Linked DNA regions of Homo sapiens. The protein of the gene in region 4 interacts with the protein of the main gene of each other region in a biochemical or structural test. Each region holds a gene or a part of one and is shown on either strand. Other genes may lie near its edges.

The links.
Region 1: the proteins of GTF2F2 (region 4) and KLF5 form a complex in vitro, tested with the Homo sapiens proteins (one study listed by BioGRID).
Region 2: the proteins of GTF2F2 (region 4) and TCEA1 form a complex in vitro, tested with the Homo sapiens proteins (one study listed by BioGRID).
Region 3: the proteins of GTF2F2 (region 4) and MSX2 form a complex in vitro, tested with the Homo sapiens proteins (one study listed by BioGRID).

Annotation. Positions count from the first base shown.
Region 1 is NC_000013.11:73,054,789-73,062,061, forward strand, and holds the start of KLF5 (Krueppel-like factor 5), read left to right. Parts: upstream 1-4,216; 5' UTR 4,217-4,539; coding exon 4,540-4,800; intron 4,801-4,893; exon of another isoform or gene 4,894-5,012; coding exon of another isoform or gene 5,013-5,051; intron 5,052-7,072; coding exon 7,073-7,273. UniProt on the Homo sapiens protein: Transcription factor that binds to GC box promoter elements. Activates the transcription of these genes.
Region 2 is NC_000008.11:53,966,033-53,970,485, forward strand, and holds the end of TCEA1 (transcription elongation factor A protein 1), read right to left. Parts: intron 4,432-4,453; coding exon 4,360-4,431; intron 2,081-4,359; coding exon 2,072-2,080; 3' UTR 524-2,071; downstream 1-523. Other genes in the region: LYPLA1-TCEA1 readthrough, read right to left, coding at 2,072-2,080, 4,360-4,431.
Region 3 is NC_000005.10:174,727,582-174,731,396, reverse strand, and holds the end of MSX2 (homeobox protein MSX-2), read right to left. Parts: intron 2,239-3,815; coding exon 1,814-2,238; 3' UTR 501-1,813; downstream 1-500. UniProt on the Homo sapiens protein: Acts as a transcriptional regulator in bone development. Represses the ALPL promoter activity and antagonizes the stimulatory effect of DLX5 on ALPL expression during osteoblast differentiation. Probable morphogenetic role.
Region 4 is NC_000013.11:45,277,494-45,284,553, forward strand, and holds part of GTF2F2 (general transcription factor IIF subunit 2), read left to right. Parts: intron 1-5,948; coding exon 5,949-6,068; 3' UTR 6,069-7,060. UniProt on the Homo sapiens protein: TFIIF is a general transcription initiation factor that binds to RNA polymerase II and helps to recruit it to the initiation complex in collaboration with TFIIB.

The DNA.
Region 1 (7,273 bases), about 28 Mb from region 4:
CAACATCTAAAAGAGTATTTCCGTGTGACCCATGCACGGTTCATTTGAGCATTCACAGGGTGTTCCCCACAGCCTGGTACATTACAGCTTTTGTCATAACATGAACAGCAATCGGCTCAAAACACTGCCCATTGTGATGCTGATGATGAGACCTCCCTAATGTTCTAAAAGATTGTTTGGTGTAACCACTTTAGCTCAGACCTTTCTTTTAACCTTGCCTATCATGTTTCGAGTCAGAATTTAAATACTGTGCAGTTTAAGCTACAATACGCTTGGCCTATAACTTGGTTCCAGGCATTTATATTTATGTCACTTTTGTCTACTTATTATACTAACAAGGTGGAAAAAGCAATCCCAGTCTCTCCAAAAGGTAAAACTCTCCTGTTTTTTTGGATATTATTAGAGTTTTAAAATTAGGCTAGATAAATTATAGTACCCTTAGGAATAAGTGCATAAAGGGAGTTTTATGAAATATTTTAAGAAGAACACATTTAAAAATCCAAACTGAAATATAAAATGTAATTTCTTAAGAACTGGAGGCAAGAGACATTACAAAAATAAAATATTAAATTGTTGTCTTAAGACATAATTTTAATTAATATAAATAGAAGTATTTAGTCTTATTTAAACTGCATATTTTTTCATCACAAAAGCAATGAACAGAGCATCTTCTCTCTTGTCTCGTAATCTTTTGAGTCAAAATGCTTTAAATTCCAACTAATCTCAGTTGAAGCTTCTATTTATCAGGCTATTTCCTTAATGACTTTTTTTCTGATGTGTGGCTTTAGGTGGTTGCCATTAATGAAAAAATACAAAGACTACAGATGTGAAATGTTGGAGAGGACAATAATTACAATAGTTTTAAGTTTTCACTGATACAGATTCTAACAGGGGTGTGCAATCAATGACTACCAAAAAGTCACTTTAATTAAATAATCTTACCCTAGAGAAGAGTGTGCTCCCGTATAAAGCTTTATTTTTCATTTTTATTCTTGTTCTTTTTTCTGTGGCCCAAGATCACTTGGCAATTTGATACTGATTTGGCAGAAATAAATATTCTATGAATATTTTTCTACTCAAAGTGAATACAGTTTTGTTGGCTGTGATACTCTATACCTCTTAATTTCAAGCTGTGACGTTTTTGCCAAACAACTGAATTTAGATTTGCCAAACAACTGAATTTAGATATTCCTTTTGCCGTGTCGTTGTGTGAACATTGCCCTAGTGATAGCTTCATATTTCCCTCATCTCATCATTCAGAAGCTATTTATCTATTTTTTTCCACTGCCTCCTTCAAACCCCCTCCCCCAACATTGAATGCCTGTTCAGCCCCCGCATATTCATCCGTATTTATTCCCGTAAAGATAGTGACACTTATGGTTTATTCTAAGACTAAATCTGTGTTGCCCAGTGACTAAGGACTTAAGCATGCACACTGCTTCTATGCTTACCCTCCTACCTAACTTGACTACTCAACATTTTTATTTCATTCCCTCAGAATCCCCTGTTTTGGCACAGTTCAGTTAACACACCACTGCCAGGCCACTAATTGATTTCTGAAACCTGACATTTGTTTTTTGTTTTCTCCTATCTTCCCTAATGGTACAGCACTACTAAGCGGGAAGGAATGCAAAGAACTAGAAAGTTCAAAGTAATTGAGGATCTGTCCATTCACACTGTCTGGCTTCAAGCCAATGTAGAACCTGGAACATTTGAAAAATATTTATCAAGTTTTAACCCTTTTTACTAAGTCGGTGAAACAGGTTTGCAGCTGTAGCATTTATGTTAAAAGCAACAGCAAGGAAACTTGGTCGAACATGTTCTTTATATGTTCAGAATCACATGGCAAATGTCTCCGAAAAGGATTACTTTCCAATTTCCGTACTATTGTACAGTGCTAAGCTAGTTATTTTCTGTGAGACTGCAGAGCAGGGCATTTCAGAGAAACTATTACTTAAAAGTGGCAGCCCTATTTCATGAATCTTTATGCCCAAAATGGAATTTTAAAACCTGCTACTGTATTGGAGCAAAAAGGAATATATTCAGTTACTATAAGAACCCCAACGCTAGCTTCATATCTATATTATGAAAAGTGGAAATATGAAAAATTAACAAGACTAAAAATATTAAAAACTTAGTTGTATGGTTTTTTTTTTGCAATGAAAAAGCTTTTGTAAATGAAAGCATGTTAAAAAGTGGTGTGAAATTATAGAAGCATTTCCAGTAAAATACATGGATTTTATTGCAGTGAAAACTTAGGTTGAAAGACCGGGCCACTGAAGCTCTCGTAAAAAGACAAAAGGAAAGGTCTAGATAGGTTTAAAAGCACATTAAGATACAGCTACCGAATGTATTAAATCTAAGTTAGATTTAGCTTAAAGTTACAAGAGCACAAAAGTTCTATTAAGAATTATCTACATCACATTTAGGTTTGATGTTATCAGAATTAAGTAACTAAAAATCTTTCAAAGCTCAATTTTTTAAAAGAGTTACATTAAATCCCATCCTAATTCTATAATCTGTTTCTAAGCTAATTAATTACATGATAGGTTTTACATTAGAGAAAAGCAGGACAGCTTTTTAAAGATGAAGATGGACAGCATGGGGCTGCTTGGTTAGAGAAAAACTTGCAAAAGCACTTATTAAATAATACTTTGATAACATGAAAGTAGTCATCAGCCATTCTCTGAAGGCAGTGATCACAGCTATAAAAATGAATCATGTGTCAACAGGAAGAGAAGGAAAAGGAGAAAAACCCAGTTTACAGCATAATTTTATATTTTCTAATAATAAATACATTTCTTTATGTGCATATTAATTTTCTACCCATTGAAAATGAGATCCATACCTTTGATAGATACACTCTTTGAAGTGAACGTTTTTATCCAAGACTTTTTTTTAAAGCTGTTTTACTCTGAAGTGATGAATAGGCTGTGGTATATGTAAAACTGTCTAATGGTATATTGTGTGTCAACATATGTACATTTGTAGTAATATCACAGGCATTTTTATTGCAGTTTATTGTTCCGTCCTCCCAATAAGCCAGATAAAATCATGTACAAGAACATTAAGGATTAAGGGAAGTGGTTTCCTTAGGTGATTGCTGGCAAAAATTCACCCTCCCATTATAACAACATAGTAAATGGATGGTAATATATTTGGCTATTACTTTCCAACAAATTTGGATTCCCAGTTTTCAGAGCTGCTCTGTGTCTATGTTTGCGGCTTTTTGATTGTCTCTTCGTAGGAAAAGGTGCCACAATGTGAGGTAAATGTGCTAGGTTTCTGCTTTGTAAATATTAAAGTCCATTTTTTGAACATACAGTGCTAGCAAAAATAAGTCAAAGATGTAATGTCTATTTAAATACACGTTTGAGCTAGTCGTGCTTAAATTAGATTCCATGCTTCGGCTAGAATCAACACGGCTTAAATATTAGAAACTTCAAAATTCATATGGCCCAAGCCCTCCTCCCCACACACGGATGGGAAGTAGAAATGTGTGGGAAAACGTCTAGCAATTAAAATCCTGAAGGAGTGGGAAAAACCCAGGCTTTTATGCAAGGATCTGAAAAAACGCTTGCCATCAAATCTTTTATTCAGGCATTCTGAATTTGCCTTGTTAAACGGATACACTCACTGCTAAAGATACACAGGGACAAGAGCTGTTTTAAATTTGTTTATCACACCGCCCCTAGTTTTCTGCTAAAGAGAAGTACATTTTGGATATTTAAAAGTACACACTCATTAGACAAATCTCTAAAAGCCTCAGCGCCCCTACCTAGCTGCCTTCTGGGTTTCAGCTTTTGAGTTTCAGGTCCTTGCACAACACCTAAGACGTGCAATACTCTTTTTCTTCCTAATCCTGGCAGAGAACAGTGCGAAGAGATCTCCCTCCGCGTCTCCACCCTAATTCCCCCTCTTCCCAGATTCCACCCGCTCCGCTACTTCCCTCCGCCCCCGGCTCCGCCAGCCCAATCTGTCAGAGAAGTTGTGTACAAACTGCGCGGCCGCCCTGCGCGCGAAGCTCGTGGCCCGAGAGGGGTGCGGTCGGGCCGACGGAGGCGGGGCCCTGGCTGCCTCTCTCCCTGCTCATAGGCTGGCCGCTCAGGCCTGGCCGGCCTCGGGGCCTCGGGATTCGCGGCGGCGCTGCCAATCAGGCGATCGGGCCCCGCCCCCCCGGAGTTGGGTGAAATAGAGGCGGGCGTCAAGTGTCAGTAGTCGCGGGGCAGGTACGTGCGCTCGCGGTTCTCTCGCGGAGGTCGGCGGTGGCGGGAGCGGGCTCCGGAGAGCCTGAGAGCACGGTGGGGCGGGGCGGGAGAAAGTGGCCGCCCGGAGGACGTTGGCGTTTACGTGTGGAAGAGCGGAAGAGTTTTGCTTTTCGTGCGCGCCTTCGAAAACTGCCTGCCGCTGTCTGAGGAGTCCACCCGAAACCTCCCCTCCTCCGCCGGCAGCCCCGCGCTGAGCTCGCCGACCCAAGCCAGCGTGGGCGAGGTGGGAAGTGCGCCCGACCCGCGCCTGGAGCTGCGCCCCCGAGTGCCCATGGCTACAAGGGTGCTGAGCATGAGCGCCCGCCTGGGACCCGTGCCCCAGCCGCCGGCGCCGCAGGACGAGCCGGTGTTCGCGCAGCTCAAGCCGGTGCTGGGCGCCGCGAATCCGGCCCGCGACGCGGCGCTCTTCCCCGGCGAGGAGCTGAAGCACGCGCACCACCGCCCGCAGGCGCAGCCCGCGCCCGCGCAGGCCCCGCAGCCGGCCCAGCCGCCCGCCACCGGCCCGCGGCTGCCTCCAGAGGACCTGGTCCAGGTAGGAAGAGCCGCTCCCCTCCCACCGCAGCACTCCCGGGCTCGGGCGTGTCCCGTTGCTGCGACTCGCGGGCGACAGGGGCCGCTCCAGGCTGGGGCGTGCGTCGGGGCGCACCGGAGCCGGTGCTGGGTGGGCAGCCCCGCCCTGCACGCCTGGCCGGGGCCCCGCGTTTCGCTGAGAGTAAATGGGGGGGGGGGCCGGGGGTGGGAAGGATGGAGGGGAATCTGCCCCGGCGGGTCGGCCTGGGAGAGGTAAGAGGGAGGGAACTGGGTGCTCACGCGCACCTTAGTTGTTTTTCTTACACTTGAGGGACGAAACCTTGTACCTTACGCTCAGTTTTACTTAAATTACGCCTTCGCCTGTACCGCTCTCCAATGCCAAGGCATTGGAGCCCTCCCCCCCATCCCCATCGTCTCGGGTTAAGTAGAAACGCAAATTGGGGTGCTGGGGAGAGGTTCCCCAAGGTTTCATACCCGGTGGCTCAACCTGCTTTAGAAGCGATTGCGGGCCGCGTTTGGAAAATGAGAGTTAGGAAAGCTAAGGTTGTGTCGGAGCGCTTATTTTTCCTTAAAAAAAAAAAAAAAAAAAAAAGACCGGGGGTGTTGTTTTCTTCGTGTGCACGTAAATTTCCTCCCGGAGCCGCGTTGAAAGCTGGCAGTTGGCTTTTACACTTGCCCAGCAGCCGAATTAGAGCAACCGCCTGTTTCTTTCGCCCACGCAGGGAGTCATATAGCCCAGAAAAAACTTCCCGGGACTTTTAGCCTGTCCCAAGGAAAAAAAAATTGGAAACATACCCACATGCAAACAGCTGGAAGAGCTAAAATCAGAAACCACTAACCGCCGCGGGAGCGCAGTGCACGAAAGGGTTTAGTTCAGTTTATTTCAAGACACTTCATTTAGTAGCTCTTTGGCGTGTCGTATATTTGCTACCCAGCGCCTACTCCGTGGGGTCTGCCAGGGTCTTGCTGTGAGAGGGCAGTGGCGTTTGTCAGAGATGTGACTCACATGATGAGAGCGTTAATTTTTATTTTTAAATCATGTCTATCCGGGAAACCCCGTCCGCATCCACACCAAGGTCCGAGATGAAACGCATTTGAAATGAAGTAGTAGCAGAAAATGACTGTCTTATTTACCTGTTAAGGTGCCACAGCTAATATATGCGCCATTCCATCTAGTTGGTTTTCTTATCTTTCGAAATTTCCTTTTCAGTGTTAAAAAATGTAGGCTTAAGTTATACTAGGAGAGAAGATAGCTGGAAAAGGCTTGAGGCGACTTGTTACAAGCTGGTTTATAGCCTAGAAAAGAGATCACCGTTTGAAAAGTATTTGGTTATTTCAGTTTGTCAATTTTCTGCTCTGGAGGCACTAAGAAGATAAGGGATGACTGAGCTTTTTACAGAGTAGGGGGGAATGTAGCATTGGCCCACTGAGAAGGACATGATAAATGTTTTGCTGATGACTGTGCTAGGGATACAGCAGCCTCCCCACCCACGGGCTCCTTAGCAGCACTCTACCAAGGGAGTGATTTTCCCCTAGGTAATTAAAGATCTGTTTTAGATAGGGATATGAATAGGAACATTTCATTATCATATTAACCAATTACAGGATCTGCTGATGAAAATCAACATTTAGATCAAATATTGAATGTGAAATTGTTTTGTTTCAGTGGATACAAGGTTTTGCTTAGAACGTTGTGTTTAATTTCTCATTGAACTGTAAACAAGAAAAGACACTGAAATAGCCAAATAATATTTTTATATTACTTTTGAAGTATCTAGTCAAGAAAAGAAACCTGTGCAATATTTTAAAGGTTTGCATCGTTTTTTCTATTAAAAAAAACCACGCTTTTTAATGTTTGTGACTTAAACAGAATTGAGGTAGTTTGGCAACATTTCAATACTGTACTCTAATTGCAAACTTAACTGTGTAATGGGGCAGGGAATCCTGCTTGTACAGGGGTGATGGTACCTTGTTATTGCATCAGAATGGAATGTTTTAAGTTTGCTTTCTTTTTTATTCTTGATTTGCGTCTTTCACTTTTGGGGGTGATTGGGGGAGCAGTTTTACCAGTTACACAGAGTTTCATAAGGTTTTGGTCAACCAGTTATTACACAATCGACAAAATAAGCCTGATATGTTTATAAGCAACACTGAGGAGTTTGCCCTAGTACCTTACACAGGGATTGGGGGAATTTTTAGTAGGCGCCGATTGTTCGTTCTTCCCGAGATGGTGAATCAGGTGGATTATGCATTTTATATCTCTTCTTTTTTAGACAAGATGTGAAATGGAGAAGTATCTGACACCTCAGCTTCCTCCAGTTCCTATAATTCCAGAGCATAAAAAGTATAGACGAGACAGTGCCTCAGTCGTAGACCAGTTCTTCACTGACACTGAAGGGTTACCTTACAGTATCAACATGAACGTCTTCCTCCCTGACATCACTCACCTGAGAACTGGCCTCTACAAATCCCAG
Region 2 (4,453 bases), on a different chromosome or scaffold from region 4:
CCAACATGGTGAAATGCCATCTCTACTAAAAAATACAAAAATTAGCTGGGCATGGTGGCGGGCGCCTGTAATCCTAGCTACTTGGGAGGCTGAGGCAGGAAAATCGCTTGAACCTGGGAGGCATAGGTTGCAGTGAGCCGAGATTGCACCATTGCACTCCAGCCTGGGTGACAGAACAAGACTCCATCTCAAAAAAATAAAAAAATAAATAAATAAAGTCTAGTATTTTCCAATAGCAAGACTCACTATTTGGTCTCTCACATTAAATTAAGTGTACACATGGGATGCACTCACGTATTTACTCAGAACCTGCCATTCCATCCATCGCCAGAGGTCCAGGAAAAGATAAGAAAGAAAACATGCTCTGTAATGCTGCTGAATACTAGTTTTTACTGAAGACCAGGCTTCACTTAATTAAAACTGTACTTTAGAAATACCTTAGTAGTTGAGGGGACAGCAGGTGTGTGGTTAAACAAAAGGTAAAGCAAGCTTCATTGTCTAAATAAAATGACAAAATGTGATATATGTTTAACAACAAAAAAAACTTTATTGAATTACAAATTTTAAAATGGATCACTTAAAAGTGAGATTATTTTATTCTGAAACATTATTTCAAAAATGTACTTTGTTTTTGAAATAAAACAAAATCTTCAACTATGAACTGACAAAATAGAGGTGAGTTGGTACCAGTGGGCCAATTCTTAACACGGACATTTAAAAATGCTGCTTTCTGTATTACAACAAAATGATATGCAATAAGAAATTGGAAAAAGGGAGCAAAGGAGAGTGCAAAGCATGTACTGAGGTCTTTCTACGGGTGCCTGACAGAATGCAGATTCAGCATAAAATGTAGACTTTGCAACAGTGGCCTTTAAAGTATGCTAGAGCAAGTGTACCCTAGGGAACCTATGTCAAAACAATTTTTGTCTTACTCCAAACAGAAAAAATGGTACACACTTTAACAAAAGCAAAACTTAATTGTAAGATCTGTACTGTAAAGCTACTTGCTATAGCCCATATATTCAGTTTGTTCAACAATCTCACTCATGACAGAAAAAGTCAGCAAATAAGACTTGGGACAAAATTATTTTCTATCAGTCTCCACATGGAAAGACCACAGCTTTAATGAATTATACAATCCTTAAGATTAATCCTTGGTCAGTATAGATTTCCGAATCAAAATCTAGTCATGAACTGTTTACAATAGCTATACTACACTAAGATGCTAAACATTTTCTTTCCAGTATGTCTTCCTAAGAGGGGAAAAAAATAGTGGGAAGTTTTCATCTTTGCCTATGAGGGGATTTATGAAAAGCCTTCTAAACTACAACAGTGTTCTTCTGCAAAACTAAAACACATTATAAAGTCAAACAGGTAAATTAACAGGAAAACCAAACTGATCTCAATAAAGTCTTGTTTCCAAAAATCTATTAAGAACAAGTAATATACATGTACAAGAAATTACAAGAAATGATGATCACGGTTAGTTACAGATGCAAAATAATATCTAATATTCCAAGCTTGTGAACATAATAATTAAAATCAAATTCATAAGCTACCTCAAAATTATGTACATTTTAGATAAGCTGGTCAAGTATTATTTGAATACACACCATATTTGGTAAACCTAAAATTATATTACCTTTTCTCCTCCTTTAATATTTGTAGCTACATGCCAATATGGAAAAAAATGTATTTTCATTTATGTATTAATAACAGAGAGTAACAGAATTTCTACTGTGTATGTTTCACAGTGTAAAAGAAAAAAAGTTAAGGTATATTTTCCTTTAAGAAAGAAGAAATATTGCCAAGAGTTTAATTAATATCAACTTACTTATAAAAACAGAAAAAATATGTTTTGAAACAGGTACCATAAAATTATTATATGGTCTCCCTACTGATCTGAAACTACAGAAGGCATTTAAGGAAGGGATGTTAGGTCAAAAACAAAGTCTAACCCAAGTTGCTTTAAAAATTTGATTTGCAGGAAAACTAGTTGCTTGGCCTAGTTTAAAGCTAGTTACAAAATCCGTTTTCTTAATGGTCCAGATATTTTGCCAATTCTTCCAACTCAACAGAACTGTCAAAAAAGAAAAAATATTTTGTAAGACCTTTAAATACCAATAAGGTACATTCCCCATTTAATACAGCATACACCTGATATTGCTTTTAAAAAAGATGCATTTTTGAAAAAGATGCTGTATTTTTCACACATAATAATCACCTATCTTAAGTGCCTGACTTTCCCAACTTAGAACTACTAGGAACATACAACTAAAGAACTTGTATAAAACAATTTCAGCATTTTTATTAAATACCTCTTTATAATGTTTTTAAGGTTAAAAAAAAAAAAATAACAATTCCAAAATTGAACTTCTAAAATATGCCACTCTAGGCATCAGCTTTCTATCCTAAAATTGAACTTTCTTAAATTCAATTAAGTACTATGTCAAAACTTGTGTCACAAAGTGCATGTATTCAAAGCAAACTGCACTGTACACCTCATCACCATAATAAAAATGATCCATCAGCTGGGCACGGTGGCTCACACCTGTAATCTCAGCACTTTGGGAGGCCGAGATGGGCAGATCATGAGGTCAGGAGATCAAGACCATCCTGGCCAACGTGGTGAAACCCCGTCTCTACTAAAATACAAAAAATTAGCCAGGCATGGTGGTCCCAGGTACTCGGAAGGCTGAGACAGGGGAATCTCTTGAACCCGGGGCCACAGAACAAGACTCCATCTCAAACAACAACAACAACAAAAAAGATCCATCATGCAAAACAAATCCAAGAGAACAGGCCAAATTTTCTCAACACGATTGAAAAAGAAGGTGAATGTCCCTCTCCTAGACCAATGACAACTTCTGCAACCTGAGATGGGTAGGAAATACTGTTTCAAACCATGAAGACACTTTCAGTAGCAGTAATCTTTCCAGCTCAGAACTAAATCTTTGTACGTAATAAGGGTACTGGGCCGGCCACGGTGGCTCACGCCTGTAATCCCAGCACTTTCGGAGGCCAAGGCAGGCAGATAACCTGAGGTCAGGAGTTCAAGAGCAGCCTGGCCAACATGGTGAAACGCCATCTCTACTAAAAATACAAAAATTAGCTGGGCATGGTGGCACATTCCTGTAATCCCAGCTACTTGGGAGGCTGAGGCAGGAGAATCGCTTGAACCTGGGAGGCGAAGGTTGCAGTGAGCTGAGATAGCGCCACTGCACTCCAGCCTGGGCAACACAGTGAGGATCTATCTCAAAAAAATTAATGAATAAATAAAACAAAATAGGTACTGGCCCCAACCCCTTAAAGTGGAGTTGAAGAAGCCAAATGGATATCTTCGACATGGTTTGGGACTCTGGCCCAAATGGCTTCTAGTTCATTTCTGATTTTCAGAAAGTGCTTTAAGCTAAGTGAATAATTCAAAATGAGCATTAAACTGAAAAGTCTATGTAAGTATAAATGAAAAAAAAAAGAATCTTGTACAAACTTCAGAAAAACTAATAAAAATAGCCAGCATTTTTAGAACACCAACAATTATCAGGCACACTAAATATATTATCTCTACTCTTCATCACAATCCGAAATGTAGGTACTATTTACATTTAATACATAAGAACAATATAGTTCAGTAATGGGAAGTGGCAAAGGAGTTCAAAATCAGTTTGTATGATTCCAAAGACTAAACTCCTACCACGTAAGCCTCCCAAACTCACACCCTTAACATCCTCATCTATAATAATGATTAAAATGTTTTTAGTACTGATATGTATTTCTGCTCCCAAATTTAAATTTTATGCTTTTGTTTCACAAAATCCCTCAAGAATGAATCATTTAAATAATATAAACTTGCCTGTGTGGGACTAATTTCAAGAGCACACAGGCAATATGAAGGCTTAGTGAAAAGCCTACCAAATGACAGCAGTGCTCATCTGTAATTTCTAAAATAAACACTAAAATCATTGGGTCTGATTTCAACAAGGGAAAAAAAATTTTCCAAAATCAAAATCTATTAAAACAAGTAATACACATGTATAGATTTTCTGGAAGTACAAGAGTCAAAACAACTTAATGAATATAGTATAAATAGGACAGTGATATAATAATTGAACAGTTAAGATTCACTCCCCATTTCCTGCACCAAAACAAATAAAGGTGGTAAAGTCAAGTTAATACTCTTTATTTCTAGTAGGGTAACAAGATGGTATATTCCATTACAAGTAGTCAGGGAGTACAAGAGTACTGTATAGTGTGAGCATATCTGTATATATTTAGATATCTAGGCAGACCTATGAAAAGACCAGAAGAAATCTTTCTATTTTAAGTGAGTATATAATATGAATCCAAGAGAGTCCATACCTTCCATCGATTTCCACATTCATTACAGACAACAAATGTTGTCATTGGTTCATCAGCACTACGGGTTTGTACCTGCAGCAAAATTAAATTAAAT
Region 3 (3,815 bases), on a different chromosome or scaffold from region 4:
GTAAACGGAATGCGATTTCACACACTCCTGAAAGGGGAGCCGGCTTCCATCCCCCAGCCCAGCGAATGCGCCTCGTTACCATGTCCACTTGCAAACAGCTATAAGGACCCTTTTCCTCAGTTTTAAGTTTGATGTGTTGGTAGCTGGGAGATTTCAAGTTCAAGATTTTCCCTTGATCATGTACAAATGATTTAGATGCTGGCCGATCTCCGCCTCACCACTTATTTAAAGCTTATCTTTCACTGTACTTTTTCTGAAAAACTCCTCGCAGCAATTCCACCTCTTTTCCATAAGTAACAAGCTGCCAGAGGAAACATTTCAAAGTATTTCAGTAGTTTCAGTTCACTCCCCACCACCACCAATCACCCCAACATGGCTGAATCTGGCCACAACTCTTGGTTGACTTACATTAAAATATTAAAAAAGACCAGCTTCCCCCTCATGTGGGTAGCACTTTCGAGCTAAGCCCAGCTAAGAACAGAGAACACCTCTTAAAATAATTGTGAGTTTGGACAAACTTTACTGCAATAAAACAAATGCTTAATTTAATTCAGAATAAGAGATAACTCTTCAATAAAATATATCAAATTGTACAAGCACCCTTTCAAAGGGATAAAGGTATACCGGAGGGAGGGGACAGATGGACAGGAAGGTGAAATACCAGGGAACTTAATGGGCTGTTTGACAATCCCATTTTCACCAAGTCAAAACATGGCTTTACCTTCTGCCCCCCAACATGTAAAAAAGTATATAAAATTTTCTAATAAGTTTAGGACATACAACAGGTACACACACAGAGAAAGCATATTTTTTTTTCTTTCTGGATCTACTAATTGTTCAAGAATATTTAGCATATAGGTAATGGTTACAAGATACTCATTTTTTAAGCAGAAAATTACTAAACCCCCACCCAAATCACCTTTGCAATCTGTGAGGATGAATGTACCTAGTATTTCTCAGAAACCATCAATTCCTCTCAACAGGTTTTAACATTTTACTCTCCAATTATCTGAAATAAAGTTACCAACAGCCTTGAGAAGAATTAGGAAGTATTTCTAATTTTCTACCTCACCTCCAGGCAGTCTCAGGATTCTTCTCATCCCAGGTATTGGTCTTACAAAAATATTCTTAAAAAAGGAAAAACTTTAAAAATATGTGTGTGGTGGGGCGGTGGGGGGCGGGGGAGAGATAGGAACAACTGTAGTATATAAAGAGGTTTCTTTTAATGCAAGTAAAATGCAGAAATATGATGTGTCCCCTTCACTTTGAATAATCTCTCCATATCTAATATTTTCTGTGTGCATTGTGTCTGTTTCTTTGTTTTCCATAAGCAGAAGTCAATAATCCCGTAAAAATCATTGACTTTAGCACATTTTGCAAATAATTTGTCTCCCTCTTTAAGAAAATACAACAAATGGACTTACACAGTGTCTTTTGGGAAGGTGAGATATAGAAAAAAAGCACATATGTATATAAATTTTGCCTTTTAAAATAATTTGAATTTTTACGTCTGCTGTATAAAAATGTATTATATTTTATTATATATATATATTTATACATAAAAACCATCAGAGCCAATCTTTGTGAAAGGAAAAGGGGGCATCTGGAAGATTACACCAAGAAAACAGGGCTTGGTGCCTCCGCCTACAGAACAAATTTCAGCTATGTCGTGTGGCCCTGTCAGCCTAGCCGCTTAGGGTGGTGCACGCAGGGTTAGCAGAGCAGGAGTACTGGCTGGTACTGCCTTCGTGGAGAGGGAGAGGAAACCCTTTGAAACAAGCATCCATCATGGAGTCTATTGATCTGGTCTTCCTTAGGACAGGTGGTACATGCCATATCCCACTGGCGTGGCATAGAGTCCCACAGGCGGGATGGGAAGCACAGGTCTATGGAACGGGTAGGATGCTCCATATATGGACGCTGCCTGCAGGGGCGAGCTGATGGGGAAAGGGAGACTGAAGCTGGAGGGCAGCATAGGTTTTGCAGCCATTTTCAGCTTTTCCAGTTCTGCCTCCTGCAGTCTTTTCGCCTTGGCCCTTCGGTTCTGGAACCAGATTTTGACCTGGGTCTCTGTGAGGTTCAGAGAGCTGGAGAACTCTGCACGCTCTGCAATGGAGAGGTACTGTTTCTGACGGAACTTGCGCTCCAGGGCGAGGAGCTGGGATGTGGTAAAGGGCGTGCGCGGCTTCCGATTGGTCTTGTGTTTCCTCAGGGTGCAGGTGGTAGGGCTCATATGTCCTAGAGAACAGAGAGAGGAGCGGATTAGCAAAAGAAAGTTACATTAAAATAATACTAAAAAAAACCCATCTCCCCCGTCATCTCTCTAGGTTTTTTCCTTTCGGGCCTCCCCTCTCAACTGAAAGCACTTAGCTTTAAAAAAATCTATATATACATACATATACACACACACACACACACACACACACACATATCTATGTATGGAAAGACATACTTTGTTTCATCTTTGAAAAAGGTACCTTTGTCAAAACTATGTGTGTTTCTTGGGGGGAGGGGGACCATATATAAATGGGTAAGTTGCTTCGTTTTTTAAAAATGAGTTTTTTAAGAAAAGTTTTGGAAATGTAATGGTGTAACTGAACCTTCTATATGGAAAACAAACAGCATTAGAGATAACAGAAATAGAACATTTAATGTAAGACAAGGGAATCAAGTGGTCGGTGAGAAATGAACCGCTATCTCTTCTGAGCATAATTTATCTTCTCTTTAAAAATGGGAGACCAGGTTCATGATTAGCCCAGCCTCCCTTGGACATGGAGACAATCACATATGGGAAGGAAAATGAAAAAGGTTTTAGCAACCGGGTTAGCTGTTTCCCTTGGTCTCCTCTCTGAACCAGAAAAAGTGGATTGCGTCAGCATATTTATGAAGGATAATCGTGCAGATAAGGTCTGTGGTAAATTAATAGCATCTTTGAATTTGGGGGCAGTCCCACGCAATAAACAGTCACAAGCTGTCATTGCATCCAGTCCACAGATTATAAAATCTGAACATCATTTTACAGATCTGGATGTGGGATAAGGTTCTTGGCTGGGCGCTTCTGTAATATAAACTTTACTAAGACGAAGGGAAAAATTAGCTAGCCCATAAATGTAAATGTCAGGGGAAATCATGCTGCCTCCAAATTGAGAGCACGTGATGACATCTTAGTCATCCCCTCTACCCATTCTATGGCTTCGGGCAAATGTGTAAATGATTTGTTTGTCAGGGGGAAAAACAAGCAAAATAAAGGTATGCCAACAGCATCCAGACTCCACATTTAAAATGGATTCAATTACAGCAAATCACGGACTGGGACATCCTTGTGATTCCATAGCATCAACTAACTTTGGGCTTGTCTTCCTCAAGGGTGGGTGGGCGGAGGAGGATAGAGCTGTGGTGATAGAATACTTAACAATTAATTTTCTGCATTTGGCTTTTACGAGCTATGCTAATTTTCCAAATGTGGCCACAGTATTAACTCTAATGTATTCATGGGAGAATGTTGCATTTCTTGTTTAGTTACTTTGGTGGCCCAAGAAAGAGTTTACACTTCATACTTGAGGGTGACACAGCACAAGTCCCAACCCAGCTTCCATTTCCAACAAGAGATGGATTTGTTCCAGTGTCGCATTATTACCCATCACTTTACTGAATCAAAAAGAGATAAGAGGCTTTGTAACCAACCAAAGAACAGAAATCTGGGAAAGGGAAGGATAAGAAACTACCATAAAAGTCTATACTTTTGCATTTGCTAATCCCTAAGTTACTAGACAGCCGGGGAGCCAGCTTCTTAATTTACAAATTAACAACACTGT
Region 4 (7,060 bases):
CCATGATCCAATCACCTCTCCCCAGGCCTCACCTCCAACACTGGGGATTACATTTCAATATGATATTTTCATGAGGACACACATCCAAACTATATCACGTTTGATCACAGTTTCTTCCTAATGTGTAGTTTATATTTTAACAGAAGAATGTTTTGCCTTGAAGTCACTAACATCTTCATCAGTAAGTTTTCATTCTGTTGATATCTCTTAAAGGAGTTGCAGTCATTCACACAAAAATCATGTAAAGATGAAATGATACTTTGAAATTATCACAGAATCGATAATGCCCTTCTTGTGGTTGGATCACTTTATAAAAAGCATATAGTGCATTTTCCTTTGTCAGCTGCATTAATCAGTGCCATCATCAGTGTAAGTTTGCATATTGAATATTCAGTCTCACCATTTTGGGAAGATTTTGTGACTGGAAGACTAACAGGGTCATATTGTTAACTTACTTAAAGCATTAGTAGTTGGTGATCATCTCCCTGTCAAAGGTGTATGTTTTTAATGAACATCTACAAATTTAGATATAATTGATTTATTATTATGCTTATCACTGAAATGCATGATAAGATGAAATGCAGATTAAGTCCTCCATTTGTTTGACAGAGCAGGAGAAGAAAAGATGATATGAGAAATGGTAGGGGGTGGAGGGACGGAAGGAAGGAGCAAAAGACTAAAATAATAGGCTACTGTGCCTTATGACTATAGGTTTGTCTCAGTCTTGGGGGCCAATTAGGATGTTGATCCATGGACTTCTGGCTTTTTGCCCACCGCAGTTTTAACTTGACCCACAAATGCAAACAAACATCCTAATCACTTGACCTCTTTGATCAAGTATGTGCCTTGCCATTTCCTTCCAAGAAAGCTGTGATGTTCTATCCCTTATTTCTCTGCATTCAGACTTGCCGTAAATTCTCTCCCACACATCCTTTTGATGAAGAATTGCTGGACCTGAGCCAGTTTATTCAGATCTTGTGCTGCAGCTTGGCACATAGTCTGTAATAAGACATATCCCCAATCCTATGTGACATAAAAGTGATCTACTCAGTTCTAGAATCCTCTGTTTCAAATACAGGTGGTTAGACAAAAGATTTAATTGGAAAGTCACTCAGTGTTTAAGTAAGAGGAGGAGAACTCCTTTCTCTAGATCTCTACACAGAATTGCTGTTCAAATCGAATGATCAAATATCTATCCTCAAAGAACCTAACATCTCTATGCGGGCTGTGTTAGGTGCCCCCTTCTCAGTGGTCTCATAATACCCTGTACACATGCCTCTGTTATATTTTCTGATTACCTGCCAATTTGCCTTTTTCTTTTTCTTTTTTTTTTTTTTTTTTTTTTTTTGAGGTGGAATCTTGCTCTGTTGCCCATGCTGGAGTACAGTGGTGCGATCTCAGCTCACTACAACCTCCACCTCCTGGGTTTAAGTGATTATCCTGCCTCAGCCTCCTGAATAGCTGGGACTACAGGGGCCTGCCACCACGCCCAGCTAATTTTTGTAATTTTGGTAGAGACGAGGTTTCTCCATGTTGGCCGGCTGGTCTTGAATTCCTGACCTCAGGTGATCCACCCGCCTCAGCCTCCCAAAGTGCTGGGATTACAGGCGTGAGCCATCACACCCGGCGTAATATGCCTTTTTCTTTGCCCCCATCCTCTGCACTAATCTTAAACTGTGAACTCTGAGAGGAAGACTGAGTGTCTACCATTCCACCTGGCACATTGTAGGTGCTGGAATAAATGTTTGAGTGAATATATGAATGTTAAAAAGAGAAATAAGATTACCAAGTAATTTTCAATCCTGGTAGAACCTTTAAAACCTCTTCTTCAGTTGGCTCTGTCACCAACAATATTTTAGCACTAAAATGCAGATTTTAGTAATAAGTGACATTCAAATTCACGTAGTACAGTTTAGTCAGTAAACTTTGTTTCTCAAACTAGATCACTGCTTGAGTTCTAAAACTGAACTAGAATTTGAATGGTCTATTTTTATGGACCTTCTTAGTGATATCCCCACCACCACCCAGCAGTCCTCTTAGCTGCCTTGTTAGTCTTAAGCACGCCTTATTCACTTTGCATAAGTACACTGAGTCTCTGTGATGTGCACGCAGGCACTATAACAGGAGCATGTGGCCGGGCGCGGTGGCTCATGCCTGTAATCCTAGCGCTTTGGGAGGCCGAGGCGGGTGGATCACGAGGTCAGCAGTTCAAGACCAGCCTGGCCAACATGGAGAAACTCCGTCTCTCCTAAAAATACAAAATTAGCCAGGCGTGGTGTCACATGCCTGTAATCCCAGCTACTCGGGAGGCTGAGGCAGGCGAATCACTTGAACCCAGTAGGCAAAAGTTGCAGTGAGCCAAGATCATGCCATTGCACTCCAGCCTGGGCAACGAGAGTGAAACTCTGTTCCCACCGTCCCCCCGCCCCCCCCAAAAAAGGAGCATGTGATTTAAGAGGAGAGCAAGGCATATAAATAAAGGATTATAATATAATAAGAGCTACCATCGAAGGTTGTGCGGTGTGAAATGTAAATCTAAGGTAAGGCTGTTAGAGAAAGTTTCTCTGAGAAAGTAACATTTGAGCCTAGTCTTAAAGAATGAGGGGTCCAGATTTGAGGAAAGGAGATAAACGTTACAAGGAAGGGAAACAACATATGGGAAAAACCCAGAAGCACGCAGATGCAGAAATGGGAAGCATGCGTGAGGGGGAGTGTTGGAAGATGAGGCTAAAGGGAGAAGGCAGACCTGAGTGGATGCCTACAAAGGCGTTTGGAATTTAATGTGTAGCCCAAACGGGGAAGTCATTAGAATATTTTAGACAGAGGAAGGACATGTGCTCTTTCTGTTCTCTGTCCATGTCTTCCCTTTAGAGATTTTCCCTTCAGAGACCTTGTTTTTCCCTATCGTCACTACTACTTTCTCTGCTAATGTTTTATACCTACTTCCCTGCCAAGCTAATTTATTTGATTAGAGTAAAATGGTCTTAGGTTGCAGTTTAGAACATCCTAAAAATCAGGAAGTTTGTGTCCCCTACCCCCTGATCACAGTACATTGTGACCCTGATTGCATTTTGTTGCTTGAGAAATTGACTGACTATGGTCATCTCATTCCATTCTTATTGTTACAAGGAAAAAAGAATGACACCTTCGTTTATAAAAAGAATTCCATATGTTCTACTAGATTGCCAAAATGAGGGTGGACATGAAAACAACTGAATTTGTACACTTCAGACTTTATTAATATTTTTTGTTTAACCCTTTTTAGGATTTTCATTTTCTGGGCCTAGATTATAAATGGGCACACTAGACTTGAAGTCAGGAGAGCTTCTTTTCTATGGAGCTACTAAAATGCTCCTGGCAATTGTTCTTTTCATTTTTGACCCATTGCAGTGCATCCACAATTGTATGGTTGTTTGTGCAACATCGTCTTAGCCAGTCTCATAATAAACCATTCTTTGGAATTTTACAAAGATGTCATTCTTGGCACCTAAACAGAGAATCATTTGTGCCTAACCAATCATTTTCCATTTATGAATCCTGTTCAATTAGAAAGTAGTTTATGAACAGTGTCCTGTTTTTTAAATGTAATTTGAAATAGCAGGTGGCAGACTTGCATTTTATATTACCTAGATATCTCAAGCCTTTATGCTTACTCATTCACACGGGTCTGCTAGTGAAGCCAACTGTATAAGGTGTGGGAGGTAGGCAAGCCTCGGGGGAACCCAGGGCTCATTTGGTTCATTGCTGCCATCTGCTGGGGCTTGGCTGCTGGCATGGGAAGGCTGCCCACGAGAGAGCTGAGCCATCCTGAAGGAACCTCTGTATACTTCCAGTACTAATCAGCTATTATGTTTCTAGGTGACAACCTACCCCTAACTAAAAGGACTTTATGAACTCTAGAGCATTATATCAGTCAGTGTAAAGTGGCATTAGATTATGTTGGTAACACGTACTCTACAGCAAACATGAGGCTCAGAGAACGAAGCAACACACTAAGGACTCAAAGATCCTAGAGTATCAGAACTGGAAGAACCTTAAGCCAGATGTGGTGGAACTTTAGTATATAGTTACATGAGTCGCCTAGGCACTTGTTAAAATGCAGATTCCTGGGCCTAGCCCAAGAGACTTTGATTCAGTAGGCCCAAGCTGTGTCTCATTTAACAAGCTCCCCACAGGGTTCTGATGCAGGTGGTCTAGCACCATGCTAGAGAAAAGCACTACCTTAAATATACAGACAAGAGCTTCTCAGCCATTTTTCTTATTAATGCCTCACTTCAATCAATAAGAAAAATTACATCTTCCATCAATGGGATGAGTCATCATCATACCGTAACTAGTTCTTTGAAGCACACGCACACAAATTATTGTTGGATTGCTTTGTTCTGCAACAACAACAAAAGAGTCGCTTTTAAATAATTATCTTGGCTGGGTGCAGTGGCTCAGGCCTGTAATCCCAGCACTTTGGGAGGCCGAAGTGGGTGGATCACCTGAGGACAGGAGTTCGAGACCAGCCTGGCCAACATGGTGAAACCCCATCTCTACTAAAAATACAAAAAATTTAGCTGGGCGTGGTGGCATGCGCCTGTAATCCCAGCTACTTGGGAGGAGGCAGGAGAATCGCTTGAACCTGGGAGGCGGAGGTTGCAGAGAGCCGAGATCATGCCACTGCACTCCAGCTTGGGCAACAAGAGCAAAACTCCATCTCAAAATAATAATGATAATAATAATTAATATTATTATCTTTCCTTTCTTCTCCAAGAAGGAAATTCTGTAATTTATATTGGTCAGCTTATTGTGGAATGCTTTTTGGCCTTCAGCATTGGCAAGCAAAGGTCTAGTTTCATATTACACTTAACATAGCCATCATTTCCATGACCATAGTAATCATTTAGTAAATGTTTATTGAATTTTTAGGGACCTAAAACACCATAATATGACTCTTTTCTTTGGAGAAGCCAAACACAAGGCTGCATCCCTGATAGTTTTAGGGGATGTCTTCTTATCACTTTATTTATTTATTTGTTTTTTGAGACAGAGTTTCACTGTTGTTGCCCAGGCTAGAGTGCAATGGCACAGTCTCAGCTCACTGCAACCTCTGCCTCCTGGGTTCAAGTGATTCTCCTGCCTCAGTCTCTCTAGTAGCTGGGATTACAGGTTCCCACCACCATGCCTGGCTAATTTTTGTATTTTTAGTAGAGACGGGGTTTCACCATGTTGGCCAGGCTGGTCTCGAACTCCTGACCTTAGGTGATCTGCCCACTTCAGCCTCCCAAAGTGTTGGGATTACAGGCGTGAGCCACCAAGCCCGGCCTTATTATCACTTCTTACTCCCTTATCTGTGTTGGCAAGCTTGGCTAAAGTACAAATAGTAGTAAATACAAATAACAACTCTCCTTCTCACATAGGAAAAAATAAGTGGGTGGCCTAAAAACAAATTTGAGAACTCACCTTAGAACTGAGAATTCTGAATACCTGTCATATGCCTGCTTGATAGAATATTCTCAAAAATGTTGCTCATTTTTTTTATATGCTACTGCTCCTGAAACTACTGGTTTCAATCTGTGAACTGAGTCCCATGAGGCCACTGAACTCAAGGGCAGATTACCCTTGGTGTACCGTGTCACACTGAGTGAGGACCAGTAATTTTTTCGTGTATTTCATGTAGTGTTTTTTGTGTTTTTTTTGTTTGTTTGTTTTAGCTTTTAAGTTGTTGGCATTCAGGACTTTCAACTCCTTTAATGCACATGATCATATATTTAGTGCAGTTACCATGTCGCACATGTAGAATCAAAAGGCAGTTTATTGAACCTCCTTATAGAGAAATCTTGCTGAGCTTTTAGGATCATAATTTTTATGGCTTGCATATGTGCTTTGGCATATCATCTTATTTTAAGTTTTGTCCCCTGCATTTATAATCTCATTTGTTAGGGGTTTTGTTTTTGTTTTAGGTGTACCTGAAGGAAATCTTAAAAGAAATTGGTGTTCAGAATGTAAAAGGGATCCACAAAAACACATGGGAGCTGAAGCCAGAGTACAGACACTATCAAGGAGAAGAAAAGAGTGACTAAGAAGACTCCTAGCCAGCATGCTAGTGAAACGACTAGCAGCGATGCTATGCAAAAGGCGCTGATACTGGAAGGCTTGAACACCGTATGTTAATAGGGGTTAAGTGACAGTACTTTGATTTCTCTCGGTAAATTTTTTAAACCTGTAATTCTTGTAAAGTTTCTTAACTGTTTTTTTGAGGAGAAAGAACAGATTTATTTATAGACTTAACTTGTATTAAACCAGATTATTCACAGTAGGAATAGGGGTTGGAGGATTAAGAGGGTTTTTCTTAAATATTAGCTTTTAATGTGTACAATTAGGAAATTTTTTTAAGTGAGGACTCTCTACCCTTGCCGTATCTAAGGAGCTGAGGTAATACAGATCCAAGGAGAATTGTATAGCAAGAAAAAAACAGTCAACTACAGAAACTCTTAAAAGGAATAAAAACCCAAAGTTCCTTATTTTGAAATTGTCAAAGAACAAAGCGGTGTTTTTCTTTTAAACAGGTGATCACGTTTCGTGTTCATACTCAACGTTAATAAAAGGAGAGAGTTTGTAGTGAAATGGCAGTGTTCATCATTGGCTTATTTTACCGTAGTGATGCTGAGATGAGAAATGTGCAGGATCATGGTCAGTTGATGTTTCTTTTATTTGCTTTTAAGATAATTAGAAATTAAATATCTTTCCAAAATTTGAAGATATGTCTCCCCCAGTCAGATTATAAGCTTCTCAAAACTGGCTTGCCCCCAGAATTTTACTGCTTACCCAGCAGACATGTATTGACCATCACATGGCAAATGATATCAGCAAATCAAAAGATGGGCGTAGGGGTCCAGCCGAGACAGAAAACGTTAGTTTCAATTCCTGGGGCATTAAAATGTTGCTTTTCTCTTTCTCTTTAATTAATTTTTAAATGAAAACAATACATGTATATGTTAGTTTTTTCTAGCACAACACAATATTATATATTAAGCGATCCAAAATCATACTGTCAAGACCATCAAACAAAACA